4 linked regions of the Homo sapiens genome follow. The protein of the gene in region 2 purifies or fractionates together with the protein of the main gene of each other region. This does not show direct contact. Each region holds a gene or a part of one and is shown on either strand. Other genes may lie near its edges. The genes, in order: GRAMD2B, GRAMD1B, FRMD5 and TMEM131.

The links.
Region 1: the proteins of GRAMD1B (region 2) and GRAMD2B purify together in Homo sapiens (affinity purification with mass spectrometry; 3 studies listed by BioGRID and IntAct, with this or other methods). This does not show direct contact.
Region 3: the proteins of GRAMD1B (region 2) and FRMD5 purify together in Homo sapiens (co-immunoprecipitation; 2 studies listed by BioGRID and IntAct, with this or other methods). This does not show direct contact.
Region 4: the proteins of GRAMD1B (region 2) and TMEM131 purify together in Homo sapiens (affinity purification with mass spectrometry; 2 studies listed by BioGRID and IntAct, with this or other methods). This does not show direct contact.

Annotation. Positions count from the first base shown.
Region 1 is NC_000005.10:126,419,297-126,426,432, forward strand, and holds the start of GRAMD2B (GRAM domain-containing protein 2B), read left to right. Parts: upstream 1-4,112; 5' UTR 4,113-4,310; coding exon 4,311-4,393; intron 4,394-7,136.
Region 2 is NC_000011.10:123,433,259-123,440,283, forward strand, and holds part of GRAMD1B (protein Aster-B), read left to right. Parts: intron 1-2,175; coding exon of another isoform or gene 2,176-2,209; exon of another isoform or gene 2,210-2,457; intron 2,458-7,025. UniProt on the Homo sapiens protein: Cholesterol transporter that mediates non-vesicular transport of cholesterol from the plasma membrane (PM) to the endoplasmic reticulum (ER).
Region 3 is NC_000015.10:44,192,257-44,199,197, reverse strand, and holds the start of FRMD5 (FERM domain-containing protein 5), read left to right. Parts: upstream 1-3,926; 5' UTR 3,927-4,143; coding exon 4,144-4,245; intron 4,246-4,751; exon of another isoform or gene 4,752-4,971; intron 4,972-6,941. UniProt on the Homo sapiens protein: May be involved in regulation of cell migration. May regulate cell-matrix interactions via its interaction with ITGB5 and modifying ITGB5 cytoplasmic tail interactions such as with FERMT2 and TLN1.
Region 4 is NC_000002.12:97,992,929-98,000,498, reverse strand, and holds the start of TMEM131 (transmembrane protein 131 precursor), read left to right. Parts: upstream 1-4,550; 5' UTR 4,551-4,836; coding exon 4,837-5,023; coding exon of another isoform or gene 5,024-5,293; intron 5,294-7,570.

The sequences.
Region 1 (7,136 bases), on a different chromosome or scaffold from region 2:
ATGGTGAAGCGAGAGAGAGGTGAGAGAGAGAGAGAGAGCGAGAGAGAGCGAAAAGGGGGAGGTGCTACACACTTTCAAACAACCAGATCTCATGAGAACTCTATCACAAGACAGCACTAGGAGGGTGGTGCTACACCATTAGAAACCACCACTATGATCCAATCACTTCCCACCTCCAACACTCGGGATCCCAATTCAACATGAGATTTGGGTGGGGACACAGAGCCAAACCATATCACCTTGCAACCAAATCTCCACTCAAGTCTCCAAACACATTATTTGTACTCTGCCCCCAAGAGTATGAACAGATGCACAGTGTATGTGCTCAATGTTAAGGAAGGCCAATATCTGACCAATATCAAACATCAAAGCTGTTTGCATAGAAGCTCCCACCCACCAAAGGTGTTATGTCTGGCATCTTCTACCAAAGTGGTTTTAAAAACTAGAAAAAGTATCAGCTAGAAATCTTCTTTGCTTTTGCCAGGCATGGTGGCTCACGCCTGTAATCCCAGCACTTTGGGAGGCCAAGGTGGGCAGATCACCAGGTCAGGAGTTCGAGACCAGCCTGGCCAATATGGTGAAACCCCGTCTCCACTAAAAATACAAAAATTAGCTGGGCGTGGTGGTGTGTGCCTGTAGTCCCAGCTACTCGAGAGGCTGAGGCAGGAGAATTGCTTGAACCCAGGAGGCAGAGGTTGCAGTGAGCTGAGATCGTGCCACTGCACTCCAGCCTGGGCAACAGAGCGAGACTCTTTCTCAAAAAAAAAAAAAAAAAAAGAAAGAAAGAAAAGAAAAGAAATCTTCTTTGCTTTTAAAAACAAGAATTTGGATTCCCAGAGACTTAGAGGAAGAAAAATAATGTCTCTTATTGGTACAATATCAAAGGGCATCCTAAAACATATTTTAGGCATAATCTTTTTATCTTGTCTCCTCTCACATATCATAGGCATAATCTTACATCTCTATTTTGTCACATGGCAATGACATTTCCTTTATTGTTTATCTGCCGTGCCTCTTGAATACTATATTCCATATATTACTGTAGAATAGCCCCAAGAATAAACAAATTAGGCAGTTGTTTAACAATGCCTTTTAAACGTAAGCAAACATCAGTAGGTAAAATATTGTAGCTTACTTGCTCCTTTCTAATTCTTCCACTCTAGGAAAAGACTGATATTTTCCCTACCAGCCCTGCCTTCCACTTCAACCTCACCTGCTCCTTCTCACTTAAAACCACACCATTGGAAGTCCTTATACCATGCACTAAAGAACTTTAAGCTATTTTAGGGTAACTGAGTGCTCTTTATTTGAGCCATAAGCCCATGCTAAGACTGCTTTGAATACTTGCCCTTACTCATGCATTAAAAGAGGGCTGACCATGATTTCTCAAAAGGGTAAACATAGACTACCATATGACCCAGCAAGTCTACTCCTAGGTATATATCCAAAAGAAATGAAATCAGGGACTCAGACAAACATTTGCACACCCATGTTCATAGCAGCATCATTCACAATAGACAAAAGCTAGAAACAACCCAAGGGTCCATCAACAGATAAACGGGCAACCCAAATGTGGTATATACATGCAATGGAATATCATCCAGCCAAAAAAAAATGAAATTTGGATATATGCTATGACATGGATTGACCTTGAAAACATTACACTGAGTGAAACAAGCCAGACACAAAAGGAAAAATATTGTATGATTCCACTAATGTGAGGTACCTAAAACAGACAAATTTATAGAGACAGAAAGTAAACTAGAGGCTACCAGAGGCTGGGAGGAGGTGAGAAAGAAAGAGTTATTGTTTAATGTATTTAATGGGAGTTTATGCCAAGGATGATAAAAAAAAGTTTTGGGTACAGATAAGTGGTGATAGTTAAATAACATTGTGAAAGTGTTGAATGCCACTGAATTATACACTTATTAAAATGATAAATAGTAATGTTATGTATATTTTACCACAATAAATAAATTACTTAGCGGGGAAAAGTCAGTCTGATCTGAGCTCTGTAATGAGAAGTTGGAGTGCACCTGAGATCTGAGAGTCCTCATCCAGAGTTTGGGAAATTGACAACCTCATCTCTGTTCCAAACCTATCCCTATTCTGAGGAGGGTGGGGATCTAGAGGTGAAGGCATCAGGAATGTCCCCAGGAAGAGGCAACTATGGGCACCAAGGAGACAGCCTTCAAGCTTTCAGGTCACCCAGAGTTTTCCCCATCCCACCTAGCACAGCTCCTATAGCAAAGCAGTCAGTGGTCAGGAAAGAAAAAGAGAGAGAGGCCTGACTAAGCCAACTCTTCTGGAATTTATGTAAGCTTTTTCTTTTACTTATTTTTCAAATGTCACAAACATCAATTTTGGAGCAAGCAGGCTACAAAAAGATGCTTTTGTTCTCTCAGCCTAATGATATATATGTAAAAAGAGAAGGAATAAGAAAACTTTGGAAAGAACTTGCACCTCCAAAATGTTTGAAGTTATTTAGAAGGTTAGGTGTTTTACACACACATACACCCTACAAACTACATACATACATGTACATACTATGGTTGTATAGTCTTTGTAATACTCTTAAATCTAAACTTTATTTTAAGAGAAAAATGAAGGACTTGCAGCCCCAGAACATAGTTAGTCGTTTTTTCCCAGGCATGTCATGCTCTACTGTTGCCACTTGTAATTGTTTTGAAGTCAAGTCAGGCTTCCAATAATAACGTTTATATTAATTATTCTAATTGTCAACTACTCCATTGCAAATTAGAAAACCACCAATACAAATGTCATTTGCTATAACAAGTCAATGTTTATACAAGCTTGCCCAACCTGCAGCCCAGAACAGCTGTGAATATAGCCCAATACAAATTCATAAACTGTCTTATAACATGGTGACATTTATGCACGGATTTTTTTTTTTTTTTTGAGACAGGGTCTCACTCTGTTGCCCAGACTGGAGTGCAGTGGTGCATCTTGGCCCACCACAACCTCCATCTCCCAGGCTCAAGTGATTCTCCTGCCTCAGCCTCCCAAATAGCTGGGATTACAAGCGCCTGCGCCACCTCACCCAGCTAATTTTTGTATTTTTAGTAGAGATGGGGTTTCACTAGGTTGGCCATGCTAGTCTCGAACTCCTGACCTCAAATGATCCACCCGCCTCGGCCTCCCAAACTGCTGGGATTACAGGCGTAAGCCACCGTGCCTGGCCCCTGCACAGACCTTTTTTAAAGCTCATCATCTATCCTTAGTGTTAGTATATTTTATGTGTGGCCCAAGACAGTTCGTCTTCTTCCAATGTGACCCAGGGAAGCCAAAAGATTGGACACCCCTGATTGAGAACAATGCCTGGAACTTTGTAGCTCTCAAAAGTTTGTTCAATGAATGAATGAGTGAATGCTTCCAATACAAAACCTTAGAACAGGCAAGTCAAAATGTCACCAAAAGGTGGGAAGAAGAGGCATTCACGGTACTGGTTGAGTGCATAGTAAATAAGGTACTTGCACAACTATGGGCAACAAAGAGACGGCTTGGGAATTATCAAACACCAATTTTGATTTTGATGAGAACAGTCATAACCCAATATTTGAAGATTTTGATGGTTGCTTCTTCTTTGCCCCTCTAACCACCCCCCCCACCCCAGAACGATGAAGGGTTAACCAAAACACCACCAAAGGCAACTACTTATTACCTTTGTTATTCCCACATAAAAAATTGAGCAGACCTATTGTTTAAGCAGAAGAGGCAGTCCCTCAATGAAGCAATATCCTGTTTGAATAATTTAGGATGGGGCATAGGCCAGCCCACACAGCGCATTTGTGTGACAGGGCGTCCCACTCAGACGTCTCCATTTCCGGTATCTAGAGCCGGCTGCCCTCTAAAAATCCCCCTGTTACAGTCGGGATAGAAAACAAAAAGCTTAATTTACCAGGAGGCTAAACAGATTGTGCCTTCTTAGGCAAATGTTCCACCTGCTTGGCCAATTAGCTTCCTCTCCCGAAAGACTCGTTCAACAGGTTTCCTTTTTCTCTTCTCTGCCTCCTGGGTTGGGGAAAGAGGCTGTCACTTCGCTTCGACCCTCCCCTTCCCTCCCTCTCGGCTTTTCCACAGTGGGTCGGACCAATCGCGCCCGCTCCGACGTGTCCAGGTCCGCGGCCCCGGGAGCTTGGCGCGGCCCGGCCTGGATGCGCTGGGCGGAGGGTGCAGGGGAGGGCACGGCGCCGCTTGCTTGGCCTGCGCACCCGGACCTAGAAGCCGGGACGAGCCGGGGCAGAGCCAGGCGCGCGGAAGTCTGAAGGTGCCCTCCAGACACGGCCCCGATGACTGAACTACAGCAAGATGTGGAAGACACAAAGCCTGCGAAAGTGCTCGGGAAGAGGGAGAGCAAACTTGGCTCAGCCCAGTGAGTATTCTCAGCTGGGACCCATCCAAGGAGGTGGGAGGAGCGCAGCCTAAACTTCTCTGCCCCGGGACGCATTTTGGGTGGATGCGGATTTCTGGAGCTCCTATATGGACAATCTTGTGGCGCGCTCTCTCTGTCTCTCACTCTCTCTCTCTGTCTAGATATTCAGTTAAGGAGATGGTTTAGATTGATTGAAAAGTCTACTGTAGGATTTAAACAAATTCTCTTAATTCAAAACTCACTGGATGTTGGGAAAATAATTTTGTAGAAAATAAGCCTAACCACATTGAAGCTCAAAGTCCCAACACAGCCCTTCGTTTAGAATGACCATTTTCACAAATTCATTTTAGTTCAGCAAATAATTGAGTATCTACTTGTTCAATAACGATGGGCAATACAAGGATAAATGTTATTTTGGATCTGCCCTTCTGGAACTTCAAGAGCAGAGTGGGGATGGGGGAGGCACAAATGAATATTACTGTACTTCAAGGGACTTTGGTGACCATTGCCACATTAAACACACAGACAAGGTATGATAAAGAGTTTAGCCTATAATTGAGTCTTCTCTACTTTTAAAATATTTATCTATTTTGCAGTCTTTGGTAAAATTGGTTTGGGAGGAGAGGTTGTTTTTTTCCTACAAAGTGGTATTTTCTAAGCCTACTGAAGTCACTTCTAATTCAGTCTATGATTTTAGACACTAACCCTTCTGAGCTCTAAAACTCTTGTTCTGGTATCAGGATATGAGTAATTTAGGAAGGAGGGATATGTATTATCATAAGGTTATACTGATGTGATAATTCCACTTTGAAATCATTTTAAGTTGCCAAATTTTTGTGCTTAGAAACCCGGTCTAACTTCTGTTTTGAACTTCATAACTTACATTAATTATCACTAGGCTCAAAGTCTTGTTGAAGTCTGGGTGTCCCCATGGACATTTCTTCTAAGAGGATTAGAATGACTTGCTCCTCACAATTTCCCTGCGTCTGTAACTGCACCCATGTAGACCTCATCACCTAGAGCCTTAGCCTCCTAAATAATAGTAGCTGGCACTTACTGAGAATGCTTACTATGTGACAGGGAGTGTGCTCAATACTTTAAATGCATTCTCACAAAGAATGAGGCAGGTGCTATTATTTCCATGTTGCAGATAAAAGCACTGAAGCTCTGAGAAGCTAAGCAGCTAGGCAGAGTCACAAAGTTAATAAAAGAGCAGCCAGGATTCAAGCCCAGGTCTCCTAACTTTACAGCATGAACTTAGAACCACTATGCTGTACACTGGTTCCTCTGTTCCAGAATCTATGATGGCCTTCCATGGCCTACTCTTAAAAATAGGCTTCTCTGCCAAGATTTTAAGATCCTTCATGATCTGGACCCACACAGACCATTGCAACCTCACTTCCTAATACTAGTCAGCATGCACATCTTTTATAGCCAAACAATCATACTAGCAGCCCTATACTTAAAGGAGTGATATGCAGCACTCCCATGTTCATTGCACATTACTCACAATAGCCAAGATATGAAATCAACCTAAGTGTCCATCAACAGATGAATGGATAAGAAAATGTGCTATATACACAAGATACGAAATCAATCTAAGTGTCTATCAATGGATAAAGGGATAAGAAAATGTGGTATATATACACAATATTATTCAGCCTTTAAAAAGAAAGATCATTTGTGACATGGATGAACCTAGAGGACGTATGTTAGACAAAATAAGCCAGGAATAGAAAAACAAACACTGCATGTTCTCACTTAAGTGTGACATCTGAAAAAGTTGACTCAGGCCAGGCAGGGACTGTGGCTCATGCCCATAATCCCAACACTTTGGGAGGCCGAGGCTGGAGGATCACTTGAGCCCAGGAATTTAAAACCAGCCTGGGCAACAAAGTGAGACCCTGTCTCTACAGACAAAAAAAAATAAGTTAAGCATGATGGCGCACACCTGTGGTCCCAGCTGCTCGGGAGGCTGAGGTGGGAGAATCTCTTGAGCCCAGGCAGTTGAGGCTACAGTGAGCCATGTTCATGCCACTACATTCCAGCCTGGACACAGAGTGAGACCCTGTCTCAAAACTAAAATTTAATTTAATTTAAAAATAAATTTAGAAGTTGGATTCATAGAAATAGAGAGTAGAATGGTGGTTTCCAGGCGCTGGAAGGTAGAAAGGGTGGGGAAGGAGGGAATAGGGAGTTGATCAGAGGGTACGAAGTTTCAGTTAGGAGGAATAAGTTTTGAGTTCTATTGCACAGCAAGGAGATTAGTGAATAATAATATGTTGTATATTTCAATATAACTAAGAGTAAATTTCAAATGTCTCACCATAAAAAATGATAGGTAAGCAAGACCATAGGTATGTTGCTTGATTTAATCATGCCACATTGTATACATATACCAAAACATTACCCTGTACCCCATAAATGTAAACAATTATGATTTGTCAATTAAAAATAATATTAATTTTAAAATAATTTAAAAATATATTTCTTATAAAATTCAAAAAAAGAAGTGATATGCAGAAGGAATAAGGAACTGGTATGCCAAACATAGGAGCAAATGAATCCCCTTCTGTCTTCACTTTTCCTTACTGCTATTCCTTTCCCCTCTCTCCTCTCTCTTCATCTACTTCTAGAAATCAACTCAAGTTTTCCTTCATGTGAAGCCTTCCTTCATTACTGGCCATACTCATCTCTTCTTTACCAGTGCTCACCTTGTACATATGTGGCTTCCGCCTCATAG
Region 2 (7,025 bases):
TCCCAGCTACTCGGGAGGCCAAGGCGGGAGAATTGCTTGAACCCGGGAGGTGGAGGTTGCAGTGAGCCAAGATCGCGCCATTGCACTCCAGCCTGGGCAACAAGAGCGAAACTTCATCTTAAATGAATAAATAAATAAAGTAGTTTGTCATGGCTTGTCGGCTTTTCCCTCCAATGTAAAAGAAACTAAAAGAGACCTTCTTTTGATCTTGAGATTCTGCCATATATACTGAGGACAAAATATGGTAAAAAGAGCCGGGTGCAATGGCATGGCCTGTATTCCCAGCTACTTGGGTTGTGGTGTGAGGATCACATGAGCCCAAGAGTTCAAGGCTTTAGTAGGCTATAATGGTGCCTGTGAATAACCACTGCATTTCAGCCATGGTGAGACCCCCACCCCCAACGCTTAAAATGTTACGTGCGTGTGTGTGTGTGTGTGTGTGTGTGTGTGTGTGTCTTTGTGTGTATGAAGAAAAAAATCTTGCATTGCTGGCTAGGATGGGGATGACAGTAGATTTGGTTAGATTTAGGAAGGTATTCCTGGTTTCGAGAGTTGTCTATGTGTGTAGTGGAACCTTCATTTTGTTGGATTTGGGGACATATCCTTAAAATTTGGCAGGATTTTCATCTAGATGTAGTTCAGGCAGTTATTTTAAGTGGTGACTTTTGGATTAGAAGAACCTATGTATCAGCCGGGCGCAGTGGCTCACGCCTGTAATCCTAGCACTTTGGGAGGATGAGGCAGGCAGATTGCCTGAGCTCAGGAGTTAGCCACCAACTTGGGCAACACGGAGAAACACCGTCTCTACTAAAAATACAAAAATTAGCCAGGTGTGGTGGTGGACACCTGTAGTCCCAGCTACTCGGGAGGCTGAGGCAGGAGAATTGCTTGAACCTAGGAGGTGGAGGTTGCAGTGAGCCGAGATCTCGCCACTGCACTCCAGCCTGGGCAACAGAGTGAGACTCCGTTTCCAAAAAAAAAAAAAAAAAAAAAAAACCACCACCAACAAAAAACAAGAACATATGTATCTGAAAAGGCAGACTCTGGATTCAAATTCAAATTCGTGTGACTCACATCTACTCTTAGCTACTGTTATACTGCCTTCTGTTGGAATCTATTTGGATTGTGTGTAAAACAAAGCCCCATCATTTTTAGGCCTCGAAGATGAAAGGCTTCCTTCCAAGAAAAGCAGCAATCAAGTGAATAGGTGCTCGTAGATACCACCAAGTGGCCTGAGAAGGAATTGGTGGCGGGGTGTGGTAGCTCATGCCTGTAATCCCAGCACTTTGGGAGGCTGAGGAGGCAGATCATTTGAGGCCAGGAGTTCGAGACCAGCCTAGCCAACATGGCAAAACCCTGTTGCTACTAAAAATACAAAAATTAGCTGGACATGGTAGTGCGCGCCTGTAATCCCAGCTACTCAGGAGGCTGAGGCATGAGAATTGCTTGAACTTTGTGGGCAAAGGTTTCAGTGAGCTGAGATCACACCACTGCACTCCAGCCTGGGCGACAGAGCAAGACTCCATTTCCAAAAGAAAATAGAATTGGCATTTAGAGGCAATGGAGTGCAGGGAACATTGGACTTAATATCAGAAGACAGCTGTATATTTAAGTTCTATCATCGATTAGCTATGGAGATTAGCTTGAGCATTTCACTTTACCTCCATGAGTTTCACCTTCTTCATTTGTGGAAGAGGATCTCTGTGGGTTAATGGGAAGTCTGAAGAGTAGTGAATGTGAAAATGTTTTGCAAACTTCCTCTTGCTGTGCAAGGGTGAAGGCTTATTTCATTACTCTGTGAGTCTCTCACATGGAATGGATGTTTGCTTAAAAGTATGAGGTTACATACTCACGTGTCCTGGAGCAGCACCTGAGCCTCCTCACACAATTCAGGATTTGGAAATGATGGTTGGAAAATGGCTCTGCTCTGGCCTGGATTAGGGAGGATTAGCATACCAGGCCCAGCATGACGTCTCCACATTCCCCACCCCAAATCTCCTGCTCCAAAAGAGAGAAAAACACCTTTCAGGCTTGCTATGAAATTCAGCGTGATGTGGTAGAAGTTAAGTGGCTGAGAGGGCCATAGCTTGTGGATTTCTTTTAATTTTTGTTTTTTCATTATTTGTTTCATTATTTGTTTGTTTGTTTGTTTTTTTACTTGTCACTGACTTGAAGCTCAAGCTTGCGGATTTTCACTGCACAAAGTTGAAAATATGAAGAGGATTAGGAGACCCTTTTCTTCTCCTTAAACCCTAGGAAGGAAGAAGTGGAACAAATGGTAAAGACAGCATGGCTTACTAACTTTCCAGTGTTCACTGGAATACTCCAAGACCAATCATGTTCATCTTTGTATCGTCACAGCACTGTACCTGACCTCTTACAGTGATCTATAGATCTATAGATGTTTGTTGATGAGTTAATAATGAGTAAATAAATGATTCCTTTTTCTCTACTGTTTAAAGTGAAATTCTTTTATTCATGAGTGTGGGAAAATTTCCAAAAGGAGATGAGTACAGAGCTGAGTTTTTAAAAACAGCTTTATTGAGATATAATTTATATAATATACAATTCACCTATTTAAAGCATAATTCAGTGGTTTTTAATATATTCACAGCTATGTACAACCATCACCACAGTCAGTTTTTAAAAACGTTTGTTGCCCCACAAAGAAACTCATACTTTTTTTTTTTTTTTTTTTTTTTGAGACGGAGTCTCCCTCTCTCACCCAGGCTGGAGTGCAGTGGCTCAATCTCGGCTCACTGCAGCCTCTGCCTCCTGGGTTCAAGTGATTCTCCTGCCTAAGCCTCCTGAGTAGCTGGGATTACAGAAGCTCGCCACCACGCCCAGATAATTTTTGTATTTTTAGTAGAGACAGGGTTTCACCATGTTGGCCAGGTGGGTCTTGAACTCCTGACCTCATGATCTGCCCACCTCAGCCTCCCAAAGTGCTGGGATTACAGGCATGAACCACTGTGCCTGACTGAAACTCATACTTTTTGGCTAGCACCTTCACCCTCTCCATCCCATTTCCCCAGCCCTAGACAACCACTGATCTATAGAGAGCTGAGTTTTGAAGGGTTAACAAATGCCTATAGGTGAAAGCAGTTTGGATGTGTTGGCTTGAAGATAGAGATGGATGACCAAATGTGATCTTGTTGAGGAATGTGGAAAAATGAAGGTGGTGAGGCTGACAGACCGAAGGTGATTTATGCCAAAGAGTTTGAATTTCAATGAATCACTCAGTCATCAAACAGGTATTGAGATCCTATATGCAGAGCGCTTCCTAGGCAAAGTGAAGTCAATTCAATGAGGAGCTGTCGTAGATTCTGGAGCTTGGGAGAGACACTCTCAAAGTGTTGCTCGAGGCAACTACTTTCTGCTGTTCCGTGTAGTGGGGAGGAAGCGTGGGGAGGTGAAGGCCTGGAGTCTTGCTCTTTTCTTTCAGTGGTCTAACTGCAAAGCATCATCTTAACTACCATTGAACATAAGACGGCACAATTTTTTTTTATTATACTTTAAGTTTTAGGGTACATGTGCACAATGTGCAGGTTTGTTACATATGTATACATGTGCCATGTTGGTGTGCTGCACCCATTAACTCGTCATTTAACTTTAGGTGTGTCTCCTAATGCTATCCCTCCCCGCTCACCCTACCCCACAACAGGCCCTGGTGTGTGATGTTCCCCTTCCTGTGTCCATGTGTTCTCATTGTTCAATTCCCACCTATGAGTGAGAACATGCGGTGTTTGGTTTTTTGTCCTTGCGATAGTTTGCTGAGAATGATGGTTTCCAGCTTCATCCGTGTCCCTACAAAGGACATGAACTCATCCTTTTTTATGGCTGCATAGTATTCCATGGTGTATATGTGCCACATTTTCTTAATCCAGTCTATCAAGATGGCACAATTTTTTTGCTGGCCATGTTGCCCTCTGAGCTCAGGGAATAGCGTAGCCTGCAGTTGATGGGGCAGGCTCTTAGCATTAATACTCACATGTCTTTCTAACTTCCTTGCCCAAAACTGGTTGTGGTGATTGTTCAGAACCCAAACTGAGGATTGGAACCCTTCTCTGAATTGCTAGGTTCAGAAAACTCAGAAATTAGATGAAACCACATCTCCCAGGATGTCTTCTTGTCATCACTCTCTGGAGGGGGAAGGGAAAGCTGACGACGGGTGAGTGAGTTGGGTGGTGGCCAACTGCAGGCTCTTTCTAGGGGATGCAGAAGCACCTCTCTGCATCTCTGCCCAGTATACCTTCACTGTTACTATCTTTTGTACCATCTTTCACCTGGCTGTTATGTCCCTTCTTCTACATAACACACCTACCCCCGTCATGACTGCTCACAGTCTAGCAGGCTGGCGGCTAGAGAGTGGAGGGCCTCAGGGTTTCCACTTAGCTCCATGTCTGACCACTGGTAGTGCCGCTCACTAATTGTGCCCAGCATGCTAGGCTAGGTCATCTCTCTGGTGCCAGCCTAGCTGGCGTGTGGTTTGCCTGTAATGAATACACAGCATTGGTATATTTATCTTGATTCTTCATCTCCTTCCTCTGACCTTTGGAGGGAGACTTGTTTCGGGTTTCAGCTCCATTTCCAGGAGAGCAGGGTGATTTTGTGCATCTGAATGCTCTCCCCCTCAGCCCCCGTCACTATTGGTGTAGCTTCTCCGCTCTGTGTGTGCCCTGCTACATATGAGAAGCACAGGAAGTGTGGGAGAGAGAAAACTCATGTCCTTCTTAACACAAAGCAAAGAACAAATGCAAAGGAGACCTATGATTGGTCAGTGGATTAAGTAAGTGATCGGTGCTGGATAGGGTTAACTGGCAAAAACTTCCACCAGATTCATAATTCCTTGAGGGCAGGGACCGGTCTTACTTTGTGCCAAGTTTTCTGCCAAGCAGCCTTAAATACATTATCACATTAAATCCTCACAACAATGCCTCGGTCCCCCCAGGCAGGTTTTCCAGCTGAGGAACCTGAAGTTCAGAGATTAACATTCTCCTGGTCCAACAGAAGCAAGGCTGGGATTTGAAGCGTGTCCTAATTCCAAAGCCTGAGCTCATTACAGCTCCACTGCCCTATCCCCCCAGGGCCTGGAAGCAGTCAGCCCTCCCCTGCTTGAGAACTTGTAGATGTGGAGGGGGAGGTCCTGAAGCAAGGTAGGAATGTGGACAGTCGGGAGGCCATTGAGGAGATGTGTGTGAGGTTGTGGGAAGCAGAGAGGTGTGAGGATGACCCTGTTGACGGTCTAGGTGGACTCCTCCGTGAGAATCAGCTAGCGCCTGGCTGTAGATGTGGTTTCTAGATTAAAACAATCTGTGGAAACTGAGACGGTAGAGATGGAACCCTGTGGGCTGATTTCATACTGGCCAGCTTCCTCTGTGGGAGTTGGTATTTGGAAAATTTCCTTGGTGGTTATGCACTCAGAGGGTGCCAATTACACATCAGGTAAGGGGCTGGTATGAACATGGGGCAGATGCACAGGTGATCTTTCTGTCCTAGTTGGTGCATTTCTCCCAGGTATTATATAGCCTCCAATTGCTATGCTGGTCACTGATAATTGCTTCTAGGGTAACGCAGAAGTTAAGGAGTCTGAATGGCTAAGCTGCCAGTGGGGAATTTTCTTCCTGACCCCAGTGGGCAAACTGCTGGCCCTGAAGCAGGTGTTTAGACCTGGGGCCAAGGCTGGCCCGGAGAGCCTGGAGGTGGTTGCTGGGTTGCTGTGTGTACAAGAGCTTGATGAAACCTGAGGGTTTTTCCTGGGGCATTTGCCCCAATGGGATTCTTTCTTCCATAGCACATATCAGTGTGTGACTTGCCAAGGGGCTGTTGTGCCTGGTGTGAGGAGGGACATAGCTTCTTATTGTCTTGGGGGGTGGGAATCTATGAGCTCTTCTCCTGTGACTCTGGAGCCTGGAAGGAAGTGTCCTCTCAGAGGAGACTTGTTTCGGGTCTCTCAGGGACTCAGAACAGAAAGCTTCTCTCAGGGACTCAGAACAGAAAATCGAATGTGGGTTTTCCAGTGGGAGAAGGGAAGCAGGATGGTGATGCCTCAGCTGGTGAGGAGATGTTGGGCAGTAGCCAGCCACTCCCTGCCACCATAGGCAGCAACCTCCTAAACACACTCCTGTTTTCAAATATCCTCTTCTGTTATCAGACCACATGTCTGGATTTTCGATTCAGATATTGTCATATAGCTCGAAATCCTCACTAGGAAAATGTGGCTGTGCCTTTGGTCCCTTTGTGGAAGGGAGGGATAAAGAAAACCATGGGTTTTTCCTTTGAGGCCCTAACACATTGGGTAGTCAGAGGGTATGAAGCCCTTCTGTGTCCTCTGTATGTCCTCAAGCTGGGATGAGACTCCGGTTCTCCAATTCTGATCTGTAGATGAGATGGAGGAATGAGATGACCAGGCACGTCACGGAGGCAGTGCAGGGTCAGAGCTGAAACTCAGGCCTCTGACCTGAAATCTCGACCAGTTTCTAACAGACCTATTACATCTCTGCAGCAGCCTCATTCTTTTTAAGGTCTCTCCCTCTCAGCACATCACTGTGGTCAAGCCTGTTCCCCCACCCAGCCTGGTGCCTCTTCCCTCCACAATCTGACCACAGAGATTTTCAGTCTTGCTGCTTCTGGTTGGCAAGTTTATCCAGGAAATGATGGAGCTGAGGGAGATGACTAGAAAAACAATAAACAACCTATTTGGTTTTTGCCCTCCTTTTTGCAGCCATAGAAAAATAATTTTCTGGGGGAGGGGGAGCGCCCAGTTTGGGGATGGTAACCCTTGCAATATTTGCCTCAGCAATTAGGAAAATACAGAAAGGCAATGGATGGTTAGTTTAGTGACACATTTTTGAGACTCTCCAAGAGTCTTCAAGCTTGTTGTCTTAAAAGGAATCATTTTAAAAAATGTAGTGCATGTGCTGCTGAAGTGAGCACAAGAAATCATTTTTTATGCCATAAAAGTCAACGCGGCCAGATGCAGTGGCTCACGCCTGTAATCCTAGCACTTTGGGAGGCCAACGCAG
Region 3 (6,941 bases), on a different chromosome or scaffold from region 2:
GGGAAACTTTGATGGGAAGGGCCTGTGTTTGTCATGTCTTGGTGAAGAGAGGGCAGTACTCCTTCCTGCCAAAATCTAAAGAAATGGTGAAGGTTGCATTGGCTAAAGAGAGAGACCAGTGTCCCAGAACAGCAGGGTATAGAATATCTGAAGCAGAGACACGAAATGCTTTGTTTAGTTTTTTCAGGCATACGTGGGGGATAGTACCTCCCCTGGGGACTCCCTCATAGTAGAGAAGGAAAAGAAATTCAAAAGACGGCTGATATTCTGATAATTTGGAAGGTGGGGGTTCAGAGCCATTATAATTTGGATTCTTATTTTTAAATGTGGCCTCCTTTATACTTAAAGACACATGAAAGCTATGGCACGCTGGTTCTCAAGGGCAAATAAGGCCTTTTATTAAATAAGCCCTTTCCATTCTGGGCATCCTAGTTAATAGATTTGAGGAAAACAAAGATAAACAAAATATTTCTGTTTGGTTTTACTTTTTATTTTATTTGGAGACAAGGTCTTGCTCTGTTGTCCAGGCTGGAGTGCAGTGATGCAGTCATAGCTCCTGGCTCAATTGATTCTTCTGCCCAGTCTCCCAAAATTCAGTTTGGTTTTATATGAGCCCTTCCTTTCTAGTTCTCCTTATGCTTCTTCTCATGAGCTTTTTTGTGGAGACATACATCTAGATTCTTGCTTTTCTTCCATTATTTTTTCATTCTCTGTATTCCTCACAAAGTGTTTTGTATCAGAGAAGAAGGGAGAGTTTGAAGTTCTCTCTGGATATTACACCTAAGCATGAATGAATATCTAACTGGTCTTTCGGTGAGGTGAGCATCTAAGCAGATGTGATTTTTTTTAATTCCTTTTTTTTTTTTTTTTTGAGACAGGATCTGGCTCTGTTGCCCAGGCTGGAGTGCAGTGGTGTGATCTTGGCTCACAGCAACCTTCCCCTCCCCCTAGGCTCAAGCAATCCTCCCACCTCAGCCTCCCCAGCAGCTGGGACTACAGGTGTGTGCCACCACACCCAGCTAATCTTTGTATTATTATTATTATTATTATTGTAGCTATGGGGTTTCACCATGTTGCCTAGGTGGGTCTTGAAATCCTGAGCTCAAGCGATCTGCCTGCCTTGGCTTCCCAAATGTTGGGATTATAGGCATGAGCCACTGCACCCAGCCTCAGACATGATTTTCTCAGACTGAGCAAGGATTCTACTTAACACATTGACATAGGAAATACAGTCTCACCTCTGTTGATTGCAACTATGGCCATACTTCGAAAAAAGACTGCATTCAGTTCCTTAGAGCTTTTCTGGATTCATAGTGCTTTGCCTTTTCATTCTAACAGCTGCTTATTTGGATAACCTGTTAAAAACACTTTCCTACCATCACACTTATGGACTTCCTCTAGCTTGGACATTTTTTCTTGCTCTTGTTGATTCTATAACAAACAGTAACTTTTGCCTTCAACAAAAGCTCTTTCAGTTTGAATTTTTTTTCCTTTCTTTCTTTTTTTTTTTTTTTTTTTTGAGATGGAGTCTCGCTGTCTCCCAGGCTGGAGTGCAGTGGCCAATCTCAGCTCACTGCAACCTTCGCCTCCCAGGTTCAAGCAAATCTCCTGCCTCAGCCTCCTGAGTAGCTGAGACTACAGACACATGCCACCATGCCCGGCTCATTTTTGTATTTTCAGTAGAGACAGGGTTTCACCATGATGGCCAGGCTGGTCTTGAACTCCTGACCTCGTGATCCACCCACCTCGGCCTCCTAAAGTACTGGGATTACAGGTGTGAGCCACTGCGCCCAGCCTGAAATATTTCATTATCTTCTTACAGCTACATAACAAAGCTGAGCTTTGTAGAATATCACTTTGGCATATTAATAATTTTACTTGTCTCCAAGATCTTCCTGAAATTTTGAGTTTCTTCACAGGTCTTCTTCCTCTGGGATTTAAGTGCTGTAGAACACCTGTCAATTCCATTTACTTCAGTTCATCAATTTTTTTTTTTTTAGACCGAGTCTTGCTCTGTTGCCCAGGCTGGAGTGCAGTGGCACAATCTCAGCTCACTGCAATCTCTACCTCCCGGGTTCCAGCGATTCTCCTGCCTCAGCCTCCCCAGTAGCTGGGACCACGGGCGCATGCCACCACACCCGGCTAATTTTTGTATTCAGTTCAACACTTATTGAATACCTATTATGTTTCAGGCATCAGACTACCTGCTGAAGCTACAAAGTAGTGGAGCGCATGCCTGGTTTTATGCCTGGAACACTTGACTTACTAGTTCTAGACTCATAACTAACTCCATCCAAATTGCATTGAAAAGAGAATCCTGCTCCTATGGCTATTAAATGCCACAAAGGAGAATGCAACCAATTAAGAGCAGTCCAGGTTACTAAGGTGATAGAAAGAAAAAGGGGGAGGGAGAGGGGGAGGAAGAGAGAGAGAGAGAGAGAGAGAAAGAGAGAGAGAGAGAGAGAATGAAAGAGAATGAATCTCCCCATGCAAAAAAAAAAAAAAAAATTGGGGAAAATATTGGAATCCAAAGACACTAGGGAAGAAGCATACTTTAAAGGCGGGATAGTTTTCTAGGCTAATGTAGAGTTTCATTTTTGTTACACATTATACCTATAAACAAGAACAGTGCAAATGAAAGTAATAGGAAATTATGCCTATTTCATTATTTTAAATTAATATATTTATTACAGCATTAATGTTCTATGTTGACACGATTATTTTTTTTTTTTGAGACGGTGGCTTGCTCTTGTCCCCCAGGCTGGAGTGCAATGGCCGTGATCTTGGTTCACTGCAACCTCTGCCTCCTGGGTTCAAGCGATTCTCCTGCCTCAGCCTCCCGAGTAGCTGGGATTACAGGTGCGTGCTACCATGCACGGCTAATTTTTTTGTATTTTTAGTAGAGACGGGGATTCACCATGTTGGTCAGGCTGGTTTCGAACTCCTGACATCAGGTGATCCGCCCGCCTCGGCCTCCCAAAGTGCTGGGATTACAGGCTTGAGCCACTGCGCCCGGCCGACATAATTATTTTATAACATTTCCTCACATCAAAAATCTTTGAGGGAGAATATCTCTTATTGAAGTTCTGGTAAAAAACCTTGAAGTCTGTAAATTTGGGGTGACAAAGAGAAGGAGACAATTCTTTGTGATGTATACCTCCTGACATACTATGTTGTTCTATTGAGAAAGTCTGAAGACATAATTTCCAGTTCTAAAAGTGCAAGGAGAAGATTCATTGCTTCCTCTGCTCCCTACCAGCTGAAGGAGCAGTCTCCTTTTGTCTTCTGAAATAAAAAGGAGGCAAAGGGTGTTAGAGTGGAGGGTTTTTTAGGGGATTAAACCTGGGTACTTCAGAACCTCTGAGGTCCCTTTAGCTTTTATTTAAGTAGCTCCTGTTTCCCAAAATAAGAGGGCTGGAGCACAGAGGCCAGACGGGCCAACTTAGGGTACAGCACAGGTCGGGGGCAGTCGCCCTATCTGGAGCGAGAGGTATCCGCATTCTGCAGGTGCAGGGACTGTGATCCAGCACCCTGCCGCCTCCTCGCTCCGGCTCCCAAGAGGGCGGGAACCGCGGTGTTGCAGGGTGCGAGGCTTGGCTTCGGAAACGCAGATCAAGTGTATTTCAGGCGGCAGACATCAATCCAGTTGGGTGCTCACACCTGGCCCGGGGGAGGGGAAACAGCATCCATAGGAACCACGGGGCGGAGAGGAACCCCTCGTTTGGGACGCTAGAGGGCTGCTCCGGCTTGACTAGGTCCGACTGCTTTTCTGTGATTGCTTCTTTATCCCGCCCATCATCCCAGTACTCTATCTCGATTGGCTTTTCGGTCTGCCACTCGGTTCCGCCGCGCTGACCCCCATTGGCCCCCTCCAGTTGAGGCCCCGCCCCGCGAGCTGGGCACGGGCACTGGGGCGCCGAGGAGACAGAGCCCGGCGCTTGATCTGGGCTGGGGGGAGGCGGTGGCGGCTGAGGGAAGGAGGAGGATAAGGAGGAGGAACGAGGCCAGCAGGAGGCAACGGCAGCGACGGGGCCGGGGTGATGGTGCAGGTGCCTGGGGTCGGTGCGGAGCTGCCGGGCTGAGGGACGCCTGGTCCAGGGTCCGCAGCGCCGCCGCGTCGCTCCCGGGCGGGCGGGCGGGAAGATGCTGAGCAGGTTGATGAGCGGCAGCAGCAGGAGCCTGGAGCGCGAGTACAGCTGCACCGTGCGGCTGCTGGACGACAGCGAGTACACCTGCACCATCCAGGTCAGCGCCGCGCCGCCCCGCCCCGCCCGCGGGACCCCCTTGTCCCCCAAGTCTGGTCAACTTGGCCGGCGGCGGCCGCCGCCCAGGGGTCGCCCCAGCCCCAGCGCCGTGCTTTGTCCGTTCCTGGTTGCGGCGGACCGCCCTAGTGCAGGGCGTCTTCACCGGAGCCCCTGCCGGAGCCCTGGCACCCGGTGTGTCACCGCCGCCGCGGGGCGAGTCTCCGCGTCCCACACCCCTAAGTCCTACCCTGCTCTCCCTGGGTGAGGGCGCCCCGTCCTGGTTCCTCGAGCCCGCCCGAGTAAGGTGCACCTTTCCGGGGCGCCCGGAGGGAGGCGGGTAGGGCGGTAGGCTCCTAGCCCGGCCGCCCCGTCGGGGGCGCAGGCTTTGGCTCTCTGCCCGGGCAAGGACGTATGGCTGGCTTTTCTTATCTTTCTTGGGTTGGAAGGATAATGGTTTATGTCATAATTCCTCCCCCCACCATTTGTGAGTCAGAGCTTTCAGAAGGTAGAACTGAACGCGCAGCCCATGCGGAGTGGCCTATTGAAGGAAGCCCAGTCCTCTGGGTTTTAGAGATTTAGGCCCCCTCCCGCCTTTTGATCCCCAAATTTTATTGTGTTGGGCGGTTCTAGGGGACGTGAGGTAAAGATTTAGCAACAAGTCCCAGCGATTTGGGGCTTGGAAGTGGCCAGGAAGAATCGGCGACTTAGGAAAAACGCCAACAATACGGTAATGCTCAACAGCATTTCTTTCAGAACCTGGTATTTTTGAAGGGATTTTTACAACCTCTTGCTCATGTTCCTTCGCTACTGCTGTGTGCACGTCAGGAGTAGTAGTCTTTCCCGGGAATGCAGTCACAGCCCTCTCTCCTCCCTTATGAAAAAGTCAGAGATTGAAAACATTGACAATGCTCCCGTGTTTAGTTCATCAGCCAGGAGGATCCTGCGCTCATCGCCGGAAGCTGCTCTTTGTGGAGAAGCTAATTGAGCTGGACCCAGAGGGGTCTCACCTGATCCTTTGCCTTTGCAGCAGGAAAACAGGAGGAGGCTTCTGGCTCAGATGTGACAGACAAAAACTGTCGGCCTGGGTCCTACCCTCAGTGTCTTCTTGCCCCCCGCCTCCTTATTTATTTATTTTTGCTGACAGTGCTCAATCGCGGAAAATAGCGGTGTGTGAGAAAGACACTGGGTAGTGTATGAGAGCAGCTGGTCTCTGCTGACTCCGTGCTCAGTTCAGCCTTCTCCTCACTTTCCCTTTTCTCCCTCCCCTCGAAACCAGCTCTGGGCATAAGTGCTGACTGCTGCCAAAGATCCATGAGGGTAGAGAAAGAGCACAAAATCTCTTTTTAAGGCTACTTAAATACAGACTAAGCAGTCATAAAGATGCTAGCCATCAAGTGAAAGGATTTTTGTAGTTGAATATGATAGAGAGATGCTCTGTATTATTTCCTTGCTGAATGAGTGGAATACTACTTTTTGTTCCTATTGTATCATTGTGCCATGTCCAGTTTTTTTTTGCTTTTTTTGTTTTGCTGGGGTATGAGAATACATTGAGTTGATATCTTCACCATTTGAGTATATTGTCTAGAGCTTTTTAAAAGTCTTTATCCTTTTGTTTTAAAATTTAAAGCATTTATCCAATAGCATATCAAGGGGAGTGTGAGATTTAGACTTTATAAGTCCTAAGAATACTTTTGGGGTATGTGAAATAATTTCCGAGGCAGGTCATTAACTTTTGCCAAGGTGTAGAATACAAATAAAACACAATTCACATCACCATTTCGCTAGAAATGATTGTTAACCTTGTGGTTTTAAAGTATTGCAGTGAGGCAAATAGTTATTTTTTTCCCAGTTAGTGGAACCTTTGAGGTTGCTTGATTGGTATTATAATTGTGGGTAGTTTTTATTACCATTTAGAAAAAAAATATTTTTGAGTTAAATAGGACTTATTGGATTTGTGCTTGCTATATCCCACTATAGCTGTACTTATTTTCCTACTGCTCTCATTTTACATTATTACAATTTAATTTTATAAAATATCTAGGCCACCTAAAAAATTAAGCTTGGTGTAATATGGCCACACTGTAGTAAGTGTCCACTGTCTAGACATGTTAATGATTGTGCATTGTGATTTTTGCATGGAATCTAAAGAACACAGGGATTGTTAAGTATATGTAATGTTGTCATTCTTTGGCATCACTTTGGCGAATTGCTTTTGTTTTTACCCATGTGAGGAAATGTAGCAAAAAGACAGTATCTTATATGAAATTAACATTTTCTGCATGTAGCTTTTTTGAACATTTAGAAATTGAGCTTTTCTTATCAGCTTTTCCCTTCATGCATTTCTGTAGTGAGTGTGTGTGTATATGTGCATGTGCTTATTTGTTAAATACTGGGCATAGGATCTTTTAAATCAGTATGGAAAGGATCTGTGAACTTCTTATTAGGTTAAGCAATATTCCCAACATTTTAGGCATTGTAGCACTGTATATTTTATGGTGATAATTTGAACTCATTTTCCTTAAAGTGTTGTATGCCATATTTTTGTTTAAATAAAGTATCTATTTTAGAATGATTTTACTGCCTTAGCATAATCAGAGACTACTTAGGATATTACAGAATCAGAAATGTATCACTGGGTTGGAGTCATGATAGTTCCATTTGGTAAATTTCAGTTATAAGAAATTCTGTCAAAGTATT
Region 4 (7,570 bases), on a different chromosome or scaffold from region 2:
ACCAGGGAGAAGGGGGTGGGGAGAAAGCACTTCAGGTGGAGGGCTAGAGGATAGACCCTGGAGTAGAAGCATTCCTGATATGTTCCAGGAACAAAATGGTGGTCATTTCAGCTGAAACAGACCGAGCCTGGAGGAATCCAGGAGGAATGGAAAGACCGGGGCAAGCCAGATCAAGGAAGCTTTTACCCTGAGATGGGTATTCAAATATTCCCTGTTATTGCTTTTTTTAATATACAGTCTCTAAAAATTAAAATTTCACTTTCCCCAACTGCTTTTAAAAACATTAAGCAGGCCACTGCAGGATGTGAACATTGAGAGACGTGACATGTCTTATGTTTTAAATGGATCATGCTGGCTGTCAGGTTGACAATAGACTATAAAAGTACAAATTTATGTCAAAATATAAAGCAAAGCCCAACAAAACTCAAAAAAAAAAAAAAAATCAAAGATGAGTTTATATACTGCCAGGGGTGGATGTAAACACACCAGTGAAAAAGTTCACTGAGTAACTCATGAATTAGGAAAAGTCAGGGTTTTTTAAGTGTGAGAAAGAGAGAAGGGAGTTTGGAGGTTATGCGGATTAAGGGCTGGAAAGTAGTGCTCTGGATAGGTTGGAATAGTGTTGATAAAACATGTCCCTTTGTTAACTGGTCAGAAAGGAGTCTTTGGTTAGGTCTAACAAGGGTCTGGTATGGGGTCACTCAAAGTTCACAGTCCTTGATCTGCTTCAGTTGGTTAGAACCAGTTGTGGTAGAGCATAGCATTCCGTTTTGATATCTACTATGCAAGTGTTGTAAGTGGAAAATTTTCTTTTACAGGTGGAAACAGGGAAACCTGTTAGGAAGCTCTTGCAGAAATCCAGGCAGCGGATGACAGGGCTCATACCAGAGTGGAGTAGTGCAGGTGGTGAGAAGCAGTTAGATTTGGGTACATGTGGAGAGAGTAAAGAATGACTCCCAGGTTTTTGGCCTGTGCAACTGGATGGTTGGAGTTGCCCTGGAGATAGGAAAGGCTGTGGGTGAAGCATGTTTGCATGGGAAGATGTGGAGTTCATGTGAGTTTAAGACACCTCATTATACACCTGAGTGGGAACAGCAATAGAGACAGCGAGGTCTGGCTGGTGACATGAAGTGGGGACCTGAAAGTGTATAGATGGTGTTGAACGGCAGGATACCAGGTGCATTCACCTATGCAGCAAAGGAGATAGAACCCTGGAAAGCCCAACAGTTTACTCCCTCCTAGTTCCAGTTTTAATTCATAGAAGGCATTCTTGCACACCTCCTTAAGTATTTTGTGGAATGAAGTGGAGGTATCAATGGATCAAGGATCTTCGTGCCTAATGTGGTGTTTTGAAAAGAGTGAGTGCTCACTAATAGCTACTTTTGACAGTCTCCTATGTCCCAGACACTAGTCTATATGCTTCACAAACCTATATGCTTAATCTCCCCAAATTTATATCATAATCCCCATTTTTACAGATTAGGAATCTGAGGCCAGAAAAGTCATTTGCTCAGCATCATATAGCTAGTAAAGGCAGGGATGGGATTTAAGTTCAAATTTGTCTGAGTCTCTTATAATTCTGCCTTGAATGGTAAATTACTAACCTGCATAGAGAGCAAAATGAACAGAAAGTGAGGAGTCCCAACAGCTTGTAGCTCCTGGCATATATCACTGTGCAACAGTCTTCAATCTTGAGCCTGTATCAGAATCACTTGGATGCCTTGTTTAAACAGATTGTTGGACCTCAACCCAGAATTCCTGATTCCACAGGTCTGGGATTTGGCCTGCTAATTTGCACTTCTAACAGGTTCCCAGGTGTTGCTGCTACAGCTGGTCTGGGGATGACACCTTGAGAACCACTGGTTTAGCGAGTTTTCCCTGACTCTGCCAGCTAATACCTCCACCTGCCAAATGGCCAGGTCTCTCCAATTTCCAAAAGGGAAAAAGAGAAAAGTTCACAACTAATCAGAACTATTTGAGAGTCCTTAGTGTGATGGTTCCTTCAATTTTAACTCCTGGTTCTCTCCTGAGACACATGAGGGTTGGGGAGTGGGGGTAGAGGATCATAGGGTGATGGTGGCTCCACGCCAGGTTCTCTCTAACACACAGTTTACCATGCTGTCTAGCAAAACGTCTTTCACTGTTAGACTCTCAGTGGCCTCATTGTCCTTTCCTGGGAGGAAAGTTCCATCATCACCCCTCCTGCTCCTAGTGTCCCTCAGGCACAGGGGAGGGTTCAGGTATGGTGGGCCTTAAAAGCCTACCCAACTATTGGGAGGGCTCCTTTAAGAACAAGAATACAGGCTTATAAATACACAATTAGGTTCAGGGACTTGGAAGGAACTTGTGCAAGAGAGGGGGCCCTGCGGCTTAAGCTTCATTAGCTGCATGGGAAATCGAACTCTGATCAAACATGTCTGTATACGTCTAAAGATCCAATTACAGACAGGTGCAAGTTATTTCCCATGGAGCTGCTGAGCCTCAGGCTAACCAGGGGATGTGGCTGATTGCTGTGTAAGAGAACCTCAGCACTTCATGGTTGGAAAGGCTTGTTTGTCCTGAATCTGGCCATGGGGGAAGGGCTGCTGACTTGCAGAGCTAGCACGTTGGAGGCTAAGCAAAAGCGCTCAGTTACATATCCTTGGGTTTGATCTCTTCCGTGAGTCAAAAGCCTTCCAGAAATCTCTTGCCTCAGACATTTTAAACGCCAACTTAAGAGATAATTATTCCTATTTCATTACATCAAAATAAAATTTGACTACTCAATTTTAAGGCTAATATTCAAAAAAGTAAAATTGCTTATGATTAATTTTTTGAGACGGAGTTTTGCTCTTGTCGAGGGTATAGTGCAGTGGCGCTATCTTGGCTCACTGCAACCTCCACCTGCCGGGTTCAAGCGTTTTTCCTGCCTCCGGAGTAGCTGGGATTACAGGCATGCACTACCACGCCCGGCTAATTTTTATATTTTTTAGTAGAGACGGGTTTTCACCATGTTGGCCAGGCTGGTCTCGAACTCCTGACCTCAGGTGATCCGCCCACCTTGGCCTACCAAAGTGCTGGGATTACAGGCGTGAGCCACTGCGCCCTGCCCTAAAATTGCTTTTTAAAATCATTAGGCTAAGGTCATATTTAAATATATATTAATTTATGAATAAATTTAAGTGCTTGCTTGACACAGGGGACTACTTCATAGAGTAGATTCTGGAGTTCCTTTTGTCTTTCTGAAACCTTATTTTCCTATCTAGCTTGTTCTGAGACGTACTGTGGGCAGACTTGGCCTTACACATATATCGACTCACTCAACAAATACAGCTAAGGAAAGTAAAATGTCTCTGGGCTACAAGCTGGGAGGAAGTTACTAAGATGAGTAAAGAAGGACCCCCTCCAAGAGCTTAAATTAAGTCTTGGAGACAACAGCCATGCGCACCAAGAAGCTCAACCTAAGATGAAAAGGGCATCTAAGAGGCGCGAGATGGCTCGTGAAGGTAACAGACGTCTTAAGAATTTTTCCGGGCCCAGCACAGTGGCTCACGCCTGTGATCCCAGCACTCTGGAAGGCCGAGGAAGGCGGACTGCTTGAGCCCAGGAGTTCGAGACCTGCTCGGCCAACATAGTGAGACAGCGTTTCTTAAAAGAAAAAGAAAAATTGGCGTGGCGTGGTGGCGGGTGCCTGTAGTCCCAGACCGCACCACTGCACTCCAGCCTGGGCGGCAGAACCAGACCCTGTCTCAAAAATAAATAAATAATTAAAAAATAAAGAAAAGAAAAAAAAGAATTCTTCCTCGAGAGAGGAAGCCGGCTACTGGATATTCTAAAGAGCAGTCTGTTTGCCCCTGCCTTCTCCATCCAGAGTCACCGACGCTTTCTGCACACGAGGTGTTCCGCGCCAATGTGGGCACAAGCCAAGGCAAGAGGACTCCATCAAGCTCCTCCTGGGTACCATGATTTGGAAGACCCAAGGATGAGTTCAGCGGGCCACCATCCTCAAGGAAGCACCATCAAGAACTGAGTCAGGCCCGGGGTATTCTCGACGTCAAAGCGGTCGAGAGGTGGGGGTGCCACCAGGAAGAGTCACTGGAACGGACCTTCCGCGCTCGTCTCGCGGTCTGTATGCGCACTCACACCCCTGGAAGGCTCTACCACTGTAGGACAGAGCACGGAGGATTGCCCAGGCGCCGGAGAAGAGGTTAGCGCCCCGCAACTCCGCCCCTGCCCCGCCCACGCAACGCGGCGGCTGCGCGGCGAGGCCGCCCCGTCTCCACGTGATTGCCGACACCGCCTCCGCGAAGCAGAAGCCGCCATCATAAGTCCTGGCAGCTGGACCTGGGCCTGCCTCCCTCCTTCTCCTGCGCCAGGTAGCGGTAACGGGCTGGGGTTGTTCTGTCCTGGTTCTGTCTGGCCGTGAAGCCGCAGGCCTCCGAGAGCGGGACGAGGAGGTGGGGCCCAGGGGGCTCCGGGGCGGACAGACTGACCGCCGGACAGCCCAGGTGTCGGCACAGCGTGGGCGGTGCCCAGAGCCGCGCCCCGCCCCTCGCAGGCCAGCGCTCAGGGCTCGCGGGCCGTGCCCGTTTCCAGTATGGCCGCCCGCCGCGCCTGACCCGCGGCCTCTCCGCTCCGACTGCTTGTAGGCGATGCCCAGGCAAAGACCGTGACTGACACTCTCGCTCACACGCACGCACGGACCCAGGCCCACGCTCGGAGATCGAGCCCCGGGCTCGCAACCGTTGTCGCTCCCGGCGCCGCGGCCAGAGCCCGGACCACGGCTTCCGCGCCGCCGCCGCCTCGCCGAGAAGGGCCGCGCCGGACCTCGAGCGCGGCGGCCCCCGGCCGGCAGGGATGGGGAAGCGGGCGGGAGGAGGAGCAACCGGAGCCACCACCGCCGCCGTCTCCACGTCCGCCGGGGCCGGGCTGGAACCTGCGGCCGCCCGTAGCGGGGGCCCGCGGAGCGCGGCCGCCGGCCTCCTAGGCGCGCTGCACCTGGTGATGACCCTCGTAGTGGCTGCGGCGCGGGCCGAGAAGGAAGGTGGGTGTCCCCCGGCGGCGTCCCTGCGGCGGGGCTGTCACCCCGCTCTCGCGGAGGCCGGGAGGGCTGGGCCGGGAGGAAGGGCCGCGGCCGGGGCTCCGGCGCAAAGTTGGGCGGTCGGGTACCGTCCCGAGCCGGGACCTCGCGGCGCCCGCCGCACGGAGTGGCCTTCGCTCTCCGTGATTCCTTCCCGTGCCTTCCCCCGTCTCCTGTCACTGCCATTTCAAAACTTCCTGACTTCTCGTACGTTCTTGCCACTTGGCCCGCTAGGTAGGAGGGGCATATTTTTTGGCTTTATTGCGGCGAATAGGTACATTTTAGGACACTTCTGTTTTCTTGGTTGCGGTTGGTTGCATGCAGACAGAGCTTACTTTAAAATGTGGTAAAAATAGCGAGACACAGCTTAAAAAATTTCACTTTGAATTTGTTCAGACATTTCTTCGAGGGGAAATCTTGGTCCTGTAGCTTCCTCCTTTAGTGTCTCTGCGTTATTGATAACTTTATTATTAGACCTAAATACAATTCCATTTAACTCTTTAGTAAGCTGTTGAAAGCCTGTTTACATTTCTTATTTTAAAATACGTGATTCGGTGCCTTTATCTTTGATGTGAAAGCCTTTAAAAATAAACGTGAAGTTGCCAGCTTGCAAGCATTTATCTATAATTTACAGTTAAGGGCTGGCCCCTATTTTAAAAATCTCATTAGTATTGTACTGCTGCAAAACGGGTACTTGGACAGGGTCAAAAATTATTTTGTAATCTTGAAGACCAAATCAGTGTAATTTCATCTACACTACCTCTTTTTGAGCCAAGGGACATGTGAATGGTCACAGAGCCTTCATGAAGAATTGACTAAGTGAATAGTTTAAAAAAAAAACAAACCACGCAAAACTTGTTAGTTTAGCATTGCACATGAAACTGCCTGTACAAGAAAACAATTTCTTGCCACGGTAATTTTAGAGTTAACATTCTACTTTATGACTAAAGTCACTTGCTTTTTATTGTTGCTGAAGGTGAAAGCAAATACAAACCAAATTAGTATTAAAGTGCAAATGTGCTTCAGTATACTGTTTCTTTTATTTTTGTCCACATTACATTCCCTTATCTAACTCTCTAAGCAACCTTAGTCTGAGTTAACATTGGTGGAAATTATTCAAAGAATTGTCGTCTATAGAAAGGATTAATTGATGGAAGCAAAATTATTTCCAGAATAAAATATTGCCGCTTTAGGACTAGTCGGTCCTGGGGTTGTCATAATACATCATTGGCCACAGATCTGCAGTTAGTTGAGTGTTCTTTCTTATGTGTGATCGTGGCACCTAGCATTTTGGCCTGTAGTGGGTGTTCAGTGAACCCAAAATAGTGCAGTAATTTAATGGACATTTTTTGGGTGGGACTTCAAGTAGACCTTGGTGGGTATTGTGTCCTTGTTTTTCTGTTCCTTTGCTTACCTTGCACAGTGCCAGACACACTGGCGCTTAGCCTTTGAGTGAATGACTGTCTTCATGCGCCCTTAGCACAGGGAATTGAAATAATGGTTGAATCTAGTAAAGCATTAAGTTTGTATTTTCCTTCTACTGCTGCTGATTTTTCCAACAGCCATTTTATATGCTAATAAAAACTTTACTCTGGGTAAAGTTAAGTAAACAAACCTTTTGTTTGAGAACTGTCAGCCTAAAATATATTTGCTAATTTCTCATTTGCATAGTTTATACATGTTAGTGCACCTCTCTAATACCCATAAATGTGTGTAAGGATTGGATGAGGAGAATACTTGCCAGGGTGTTAAGTATGTATTAAAGGGGTGGTTGAATCAGCCAGTGGCCTGGGTGAATCAGATATCCTTTGTGGCCCATGCTTTTCTGTATGAACAATTTGTGTGTGCGGTTATCCAAGATATTAATGGAGATGATGCTGATATAGAACATAGGCCTCTACCCATCATAAACAGATCTGGTTCTAATCAAATATTCTGTGAAGGTATCTCCAGAAATGGCTTCTCCTTTAAAACTGATCATATTCCAGTATTGTTTCTGAGTAAGTAGGGGAAAAGCAATTTATTTTCTTACGTGATTGTGACACTGTGAGTCTGGCATCTGATGAGGCACAAATACAGTATTTGTCCTAAAAGGTACTGTTGAGTTTTTCAGCAAGTTTGGGCAGATTTCTGAAGATGGCTGAGTTCAGTTTGATCATTCACACCCGGAGGAATTTTGTGTCTATTGAAGTAGCATAAACTAGTTTAAAATTTCAAAGTTAAGATTTACCTGCAGTTTTAATGATGATTCTGCAGGTATTTTGTATGTTTGTATTTCTTTTCCTTCATTACTGTATAATTTCACTGCAAAATCTTTAAAAGACAATAAAACTCATTGTCTCCTGAAGAAAAGCTGCAGAAATAAATTACCTAATGTAGTTTTTCATGTTTGGACTTGATGTTGATTTTCTTGAGTCAGAAGCATGGACCATTCCTTGTCTTAACATCCTATATGACTTAACTGAGCTATGGGAGTGTGCTATCACTAGTCCAGAGGAAAGGTACCTTTGA